Linked DNA regions of Homo sapiens. The protein of the gene in region 2 purifies or fractionates together with the protein of the main gene of each other region. This does not show direct contact. Each region holds a gene or a part of one and is shown on either strand. Other genes may lie near its edges.

What was found.
Region 1: the proteins of MACC1 (region 2) and MARK2 purify together in Homo sapiens (affinity purification with mass spectrometry; one large-scale study listed by BioGRID and IntAct). This does not show direct contact.

The regions. Positions count from the first base shown.
Region 1 is NC_000011.10:63,901,531-63,905,349, reverse strand, and holds part of MARK2 (serine/threonine-protein kinase MARK2), read right to left. Parts: intron 3,153-3,819; coding exon 3,020-3,152; intron 2,750-3,019; coding exon 2,568-2,749; intron 2,290-2,567; coding exon 2,192-2,289; intron 1,365-2,191; coding exon 1,203-1,364; intron 565-1,202; coding exon 307-564; intron 1-306. UniProt on the Homo sapiens protein: Serine/threonine-protein kinase. Involved in cell polarity and microtubule dynamics regulation. Phosphorylates CRTC2/TORC2, DCX, HDAC7, KIF13B, MAP2, MAP4 and RAB11FIP2. Phosphorylates the microtubule-associated protein MAPT/TAU.
Region 2 is NC_000007.14:20,133,977-20,137,525, reverse strand, and holds the end of MACC1 (metastasis-associated in colon cancer protein 1), read left to right. Parts: 3' UTR 1-2,871; downstream 2,872-3,549. UniProt on the Homo sapiens protein: Acts as a transcription activator for MET and as a key regulator of HGF-MET signaling. Promotes cell motility, proliferation and hepatocyte growth factor (HGF)-dependent scattering in vitro and tumor growth and metastasis in vivo.

The DNA.
Region 1 (3,819 bases), on a different chromosome or scaffold from region 2:
GGGGGCTTTTATTTTAGCATCTGAGTTCACACTCTCCTAGAGAGGAGGCGGCATCGGCCATCTGCTTGGGGCCAGAGAATGAGGGGTGCCTGTGAGGAGTTGGGGAGAGGCCTAAGAGGGGTGGGCCTGGGCACATAAGGTGTTGACAAAGACCTAATTTCTTGTGCTTCCTGAAGCCTCTTCTAACCCCAGGACCCAATACCGGTACAGAGTGTCCCAAACCCCAACCCCCAACCCCCAACCCACCCCGAGTAAAGCAGGAAGGCCTGGCCTGAGCCTCTCTGCCACCCAAAGCTCCTTGCTTACCTGCGTACAAACTTGGAGGTGAACTTGCTGAAGATGCTCCCAGAGGCCCCCCGCCGGCCCTGGCTGTGGCCAGAGGGAGAGGCTGGGGTCACACCGTAGGGCAAATTCTGCTGGTCCCGCACCTGTCGGAGCTGCCCAGCATGGAAGGTGCTTCGGCTGGACACACCCCGGGGGAAGTTAGTTCGGTCTGGGGCTCCACCACTGCTGCTGATGTTGTGGGCGGATGGGGAGGCAACAGGGACACGCTGGGGGGCTGTGCTGTGGGAAGAGAAGTGGGGTTGAGGGGGACGAATTAGGGTACAGGACAGCCATCACTGGGCACCTGGACACCCTGTGGTGGGGACAGGGAGGGGGATGCTAGGGCAGAGGCAGCCATCACGAGGACACAGAAGGAAGGGTGTGACTACTGAGGACAGTGGTGAGAAGGAAGTCTCGTGGAAGTGGAAGGAGATGGTTTGGGAAGGGAGGGAGGGAGGCAAGGAAGGACCCCTGTGTGGAGTGTGGTTTAGGCTGGAGACAGCGGGCTCCCTGGGAGCCGGGCAGACTGGACCCTCAAGGCGGCAATGGGGACCAACCCTTGAGGATTGAGTCCCTGTGATGCCGACTATCCCCGGGGTCCCTAAGGAAACCCTGGAAGGTTCAGAACAAAAAGGTTTCCCTTTGGAGCCTTAGGACAGCTTCCTGCATACCTGTTCTGAGAGGGAGAACTGGAAAAGAGGGGCATTAATGCTCTTTTTTGTTCCCTCCACTTCCTGGCCGCAGGGGACAGACCCATTTCTTGTGGCTAAGATGACAAGAACACAGCAGGACCCCCAAGTGGGAAGAAGAAATTGTTGGGGCAAGGGGGTAGGGTGGGCTGAGGGCAGCAGGTGCACCAGCTGCCCCAGCACACTTGCCTGGGCCGCGGCACCTCACAGTTACTCTCCGTGGGGGGCAGCCCAGAGGCCTTGTTGGGGTGCACGGAGGCCGACATGGATTTCTGGTGCTGGCGGGGCCGGGCCGCAGAGACTGCGGCAGAAGCAGAAGCCGTGGAGGCCCGGGACCCTGGCATGGTTAGGCTAGGAAACAAAAGCAGCGGAGAGGCCCGTGTTAGGGGTGAGTGAGGGCGGGAGGCCTGGATTAGGAAGCAAGGGCAGGGGAAGGGCCAGAGCTGGGGAGCTCTGGCAGGGTAGAAGTCAGGCCTGGGCAGCAGCGGGATGCAAGTCAGAACTGAGGAATGCGGGGCTGAGAAGTGGAGGTGAGTGAGGTCGGGAAGCAGCGAGGTGGGTCAGTGCCTGGGAAGAGGAATCAGAAATGAAGGAGAGCAGACAAGGGGCCGCTGCCTCCAGGCTGCACTGGCCTCCTAAGAATTTTAAGAACAGGAGAGTTTCTTCTACAGAAAGAGTGGGGTGTTGCTGAGGGGAAACTTTCATAAACTCAGAAGAGATAGAGCCAGGAATGCAACACCAAGAAATGCGGCCGGTGAAGGCTGGGGAGCTCTGGTCTCATGGGGATGGCTGGAGTCGCCCTCTATGTGTACACCCCTCAAGGTGGGCATCTCTTGGTTCTGCCCTGAGCTGGGACCCCCAACACAAGGCCTTAGCTGCTCATGTCTAGAGGAGGGCAGCTGCCATGCCCTGGCCGTGGTCAAGAAGCGAGCATGTAGCTGAGATGGCCACGGTCAGCCCCACACTTGGCAAACTGCAAGTAGCAGTCAGAGGAAGATGGGGAGGAGGCAATGGCGTGGAATAGGGGAGGGGAAAGCTGGACTGGACACAGCCAGGATGGAACTCCAGGGAGCAGGGAGCAATGCGCTGGCAGGGACAGGAGACGGTGCTGCTGACAGACATCACCCTGTGAGACATGGCTCCTAGGGAGTGAGGCAGGCAGGGCCCGGGTCTCTCACCTGTCTTTGCCATTCTGGATGGAGGCCTGGCCGAGGCTGGCCCGCTCCAAAAGTGGGGAATTCCTGCTTCGATTTGTGCTGGTGGAGAGGACGCTGTTCTGTGGGGAATAAAGGGCAAGCGTTCTATCAGAAAGCCAAAGTGGTCTACAGCCAGGTTCTCCCCCCAGGTTCATGGAACAGGCTTCCTGTCCCTTCCACCTGAAGCAGACAGTGGTAGGTTAAGGAAAGGATTCTGCATTTACTGCTGGGAGCGAGGCTTCCTGCTATAAGCAGAAGTAGTAGCCAAAGGGAACAGAGTCTGAATTAAGAGAAGAGCTGCCTGGAGAGGGCAGGCCCCACCGCAGGAAGGAAGGAGAGAGCGGGGGGTGCGGCTCACCGTGGAGGGGGTTGGGGTGGTCTTCTTCCTCTCCAGACCGGGCAGGGGGCTGGCAGGCACCTTGGCTGTGCTGCTGGCTTTCCGCCCTGACTCCCGGTCCTCCTCAGGCCGCTTATTTTCTGCGTTGTTACTCTGAGTCTTCTTAGAGTAAGAATTAGAGGTGGGAATGGCAGGACCAGCTGCTGGGCCAGAGGGAGGATGGGAATGGGTAAGGCCAAGGGGTCCACTGAGTGCCAGCCCCACGCATGCTCATTTCCTACAGGGCTGGCCAACAACCCAGCAAGCCCCCATTCCACAGAGGCGAGGGAAGGGAAGTGGCTTGCCCATAGCCACACTACTAATAAGTGGCTGAACCAGGACTGAAACTTAGTTGTGTTACCCAAGTCCCCACAGAACCTGTAACCTCTCTGGAGAGGGGTGAGTCCCCACCTACAACTCCCAAAAGCATTTACCCTGGTCGCTGAAGCGCCGCTGCTTGGGATTGGCCGACACGCTGCGCTGTACCTTGTGGGATGGGGATGGGGCGCTGCTATTGGTCAGATCAGCTGAAGGCCGGGGTTTCAGGGTGATGGTGTCGCCTTCCAGCTGAAAGAAACAGAAAACAGCTTCAAGGGAGGGCAGAAGTCATGTGGAGATCCCTATGGATGGACACATTTACACATACCGCCCTCTCCCAACACTCAAACACCCCAGGATCATACCGGACATCCACTTGTAAGACCAATACATCCCCCCTGGAGGAGACCCTGGAGACACACATGCTCTGACACAGACACTGACAAACACAGTCTCAGAAAGGAATACATAAGCCCACACACCCAGAGACACAAACATCCGCAAGAACACATGTCCAGACTCAAGTCCACTCCCCTCAACACAGAGCAATATGGGCCTATACCAAGTGTCACCAGGTGCCTCTTAAGGATCCCACCACCAGAGGGAGAGCAGGGCAGGGAGGCTGGGAGTTCATGTGGGGATACTCAGATGATGAACAAAACCCAAATGGGCAGAAGAACAATCACAAAGTCTCCAGATCCACAGACGGGAAGACGGACACATACACACACACACACACACACACACACACACAGATACACACACCCAAACATAAAGCACTAGACAGAAGCAACAGACTCAATAGCCGGGTATGGTGGCACATGCCTGTAATCCCAGCTACTTGGGAGGCTGAGGCAGGAGAATCGCTTGAACCCGGGAGGCGGAGGTTGCAGTGAGCCAAGATCCTGCCATTGCA
Region 2 (3,549 bases):
ATTAAGTGCCCAGCTTGAAACATAATAATTTTTCTGTATAAGCCACAGATCCTCTACCTCCTTTGTGTTAAAGCCTTTATATGAAACAATTAAGTAGAAGCATTCAATAGTGTGTCATTAACTGTTCATACTAATAAATGGATACAGCACATTTTCATGGCCTGTAATGTAGAACATACTATATAAAGTTCTCAGTTTGGGGATGACTAGGTTTCTGGAAGGAATAGAATGCTAAATCAATGGATGGCATTGGGCTGAGAAACACTGCTGCTACTAATCAGCCTTGAATGTGTAATGTGAACATGCAAAAGAGAACATGCATACACTCAAATTTGTACAATGCTATAACTGGAAGTTGAAGGACTTGAATTTTTATATTGTGCTATTGTTATGTTTTCTGTAATTGTTTATATCTAAGGAATTTTTGAGGTAATATAAAAGAAAAAGAGAATAATGAACAATGATGTCACTGGAGGGTTTTTACATTAAATTAGATCATTTTTCTTCTTATTCACAATAATAATCTTAATCTTTAAGAATTAATTATAATTTAATATTATAATTCATAATCTTTAAGAATTAATAATTATAATTTAATATTATAATTAATAATCTTTAAGAATTAATAATATAATTTAATATTATAATTAATAATCTTTAAGAATTAATAATTACAATTAATAATTAATAATAATCTTAATCTTTAAGAATTAATAATAATCCTTAATCGCAATAATAATCGCAAGGAGGAGAAGTAAGTCCCTCCTCCTTCTGTATGAACTTTTCTCCCACATGCTGCTGTATGGTTTAGTGAGAGTGAAGTTCTAAAGAACATCAATATGATTGGTGGGATAATCCAAAGACATTTTTTCAGAATCAAATGGCATGTCGAAGGTTTGTTTCTTGCATATGTATTTACTGGTCCACAGCACAAAATAAAGTGACCACATATACATAGGAAAGTTGAATTTGTACACATACAGCATCTGAAATGTATCTGATGTTCAGCATCAAGATTTCACTGAACATTGTAGAAATGTGTATCTTTTGCATGTATATTTTACATTGATTTTCTATTTATGTACATCTAGAAAGTTTTAACCCTAATAAATAGTTTTGTAATTTTGAATAATAGTGTCAGTTTATATGTGAGGGAGTAGAGACAGAGAGGTTAGCACTGGATAATAATTAGTAAGGCCAAAGGAGAAAATTTCATAGAAAATATTGTTGTTGTCATAATGAGTACAGCATGAAAGGCTTCCTCTACAAGACACTAGTCAAAGAGTTGAGAGCTGCGGTTTCTAATCTTTGTCCATTACTCCCTTACTCCCTATGAGACTGTGGACCTGTCACTTGGCCTCTCTGGTCTTCAGTTTTCTCACCAGTAAAACAAGGAACTTGAACCAAATGACCTCTAGTGTTCCCCTTGGGTTTAAATGTCTATAAATGTTCAATGACTAGAATGTATTGCGTTTTTCTTTATTCTTTTTGCTTTGAGAAAAGAGAATGTGATTTAAGAGTAATAATTTGAATACCAATTATCCACATTAAAATTGTGTCCTCTATGTGTAAGGCATAGCACATTTAGCACACATACATAAGCACACTAAGCACCTTACAAATATCCTCATTTATTCTTTACATAATCTTTTGAAATTGATTATGTAATACACACTGTTTTTGAACAATTGGTGACTTCCAGCTGTTTAAAACAAACTACAGTATGGTGCTTGAGTACTGACTTAGGAGGTCAGCATTGGTTTCACTAGGAGCTTCTCAAAGCACGCTGCCAAACATGCTCCAGTCTCATTGTCAAGGCCTTAGACCAGGCAATCATTACGGCAGTGGTTCTTCAACTTCAGCAGCAGCAAAACGATCTGGCGGGGGCTTGGTGAAACAGACTGCTGGGCTCGACCACCAGAATTTCTCATTCAGAGGGTCTGGCCTGATCACTTGCATTTCTAATCACTTCCCAGGTGATGCAGATGTTTCTGGTCCAGGGACCCCAGTTTGAGAACCACTGTATTAAAATTTCCTTCATCTCTATAGAAATGGAAAGATTTTTTATAAGTCCTCTAATTTGCTTTAAGATAAATGAGATTTCACTTAATTCTGTTGGAGAAATTGTTTTAAAAATTGTGCTAAAGAACCGAAAATCACTTTATGTTAAGGCTCTATTTATAGCAAGTGAACTTTTCATGAGTTAATAAAGGCCTACAAAAATAATTTTGACTGTGAAACTAATTAAAATCTCTGTGTTTCATTTAAAGCATAAACATATTTGAATAAAAATAGGTTAACAATAATTTGGGACATGTATTCAGTATAATTTTAAGATAATTTTACAAAATATATGTAACATTGCATTTGTTTCTGTAAAATATCTTCGGAAAAAGCCTTGTTTTCCCTAGTGTGTTATTTGTTGAATTTCTTGTTAAATGTATTTTTTCCCATTGAAAAAAATGTTTTTAATCAATGTGATCAATACAGCTATCTATATGCCCTGCTTTCACTGTAGAATTAGAAAGTGTTAATAAGGTGATCGGATGTTCTTTCTAAGGATCATATTCCACATTTAAAGAGATGGTGACTGAGAAGAGGTGGCAAGCTGAACCATCTCACTTTGAGATTGACGTATCACGTTTTATCCTCTGCCATCATTTCCTTGTTAATTGTTTTTCTTTGGGTGATTGGAAGAATCTATGGCTTCCTTTTCTCTGTTCTTAAAGATATCAAGACTCTGCCCTTTTGTGACTGGAAGTAGATTTTAAATGTCCCTAATGTTTATATGCTCACTTAAACTCAATACATGGAATTTACTGGGGCATTTAACTTGTTCATGAAAATAGAGTGAGTCATTGAAAAATCAAATCTTTAGTTATGATTAAGTTATTGTTTTTACCTAAACTGGTTCTACCAAACTCACTCTTTAAAGCAGAATCTGGAATTGGCAAGTCTGATGTAATGCTGATCTTACACATATTAGATTAAATGACCTAATAGAACCAGCTACTGCGCCCTTTCTTATCAGAGTAGAAAAACCCATTCTCTGGGTTTACTCCCAGGAAATACATACTCAATGCTCACTCAGACGTTTTATATCATGACGAAAAATCAAGAAAGGGGTGAAGTGGAGCTAGGGAAGGGTTCAATTACGGTGTAAAGAAAGAAGGCTGCCTATTCATGACAATGGAAACTTTGTCTTCCTCTCTTTGTGTTGGAATTTTTATTTTTATTTTTATTTTTATTTTATTTTATTTTATTTTTTAGACAAGGTCTCCTTGTCTCACCCAAGCTGGAGTGCAGTGGTGCAATGATCGCCTGACCTACCTCCACCTTCCAAGAGTAACAGTGCTCCTGCTCCAATGTGACCTTACAAATCTTACATAGATTTCTCTGTGGTCAACTCTAATCAGCAACACTCAGAGACACTCAGTGAAGAAAGCCCTGGGAAACACTATTTAGTTTAGCCCAGGGGAAATTACAAGGCCATGTCACCTTGAAACTGGAACATGAGGAGAGGTGAGGATGGAGCTGCTGCAGCCATGT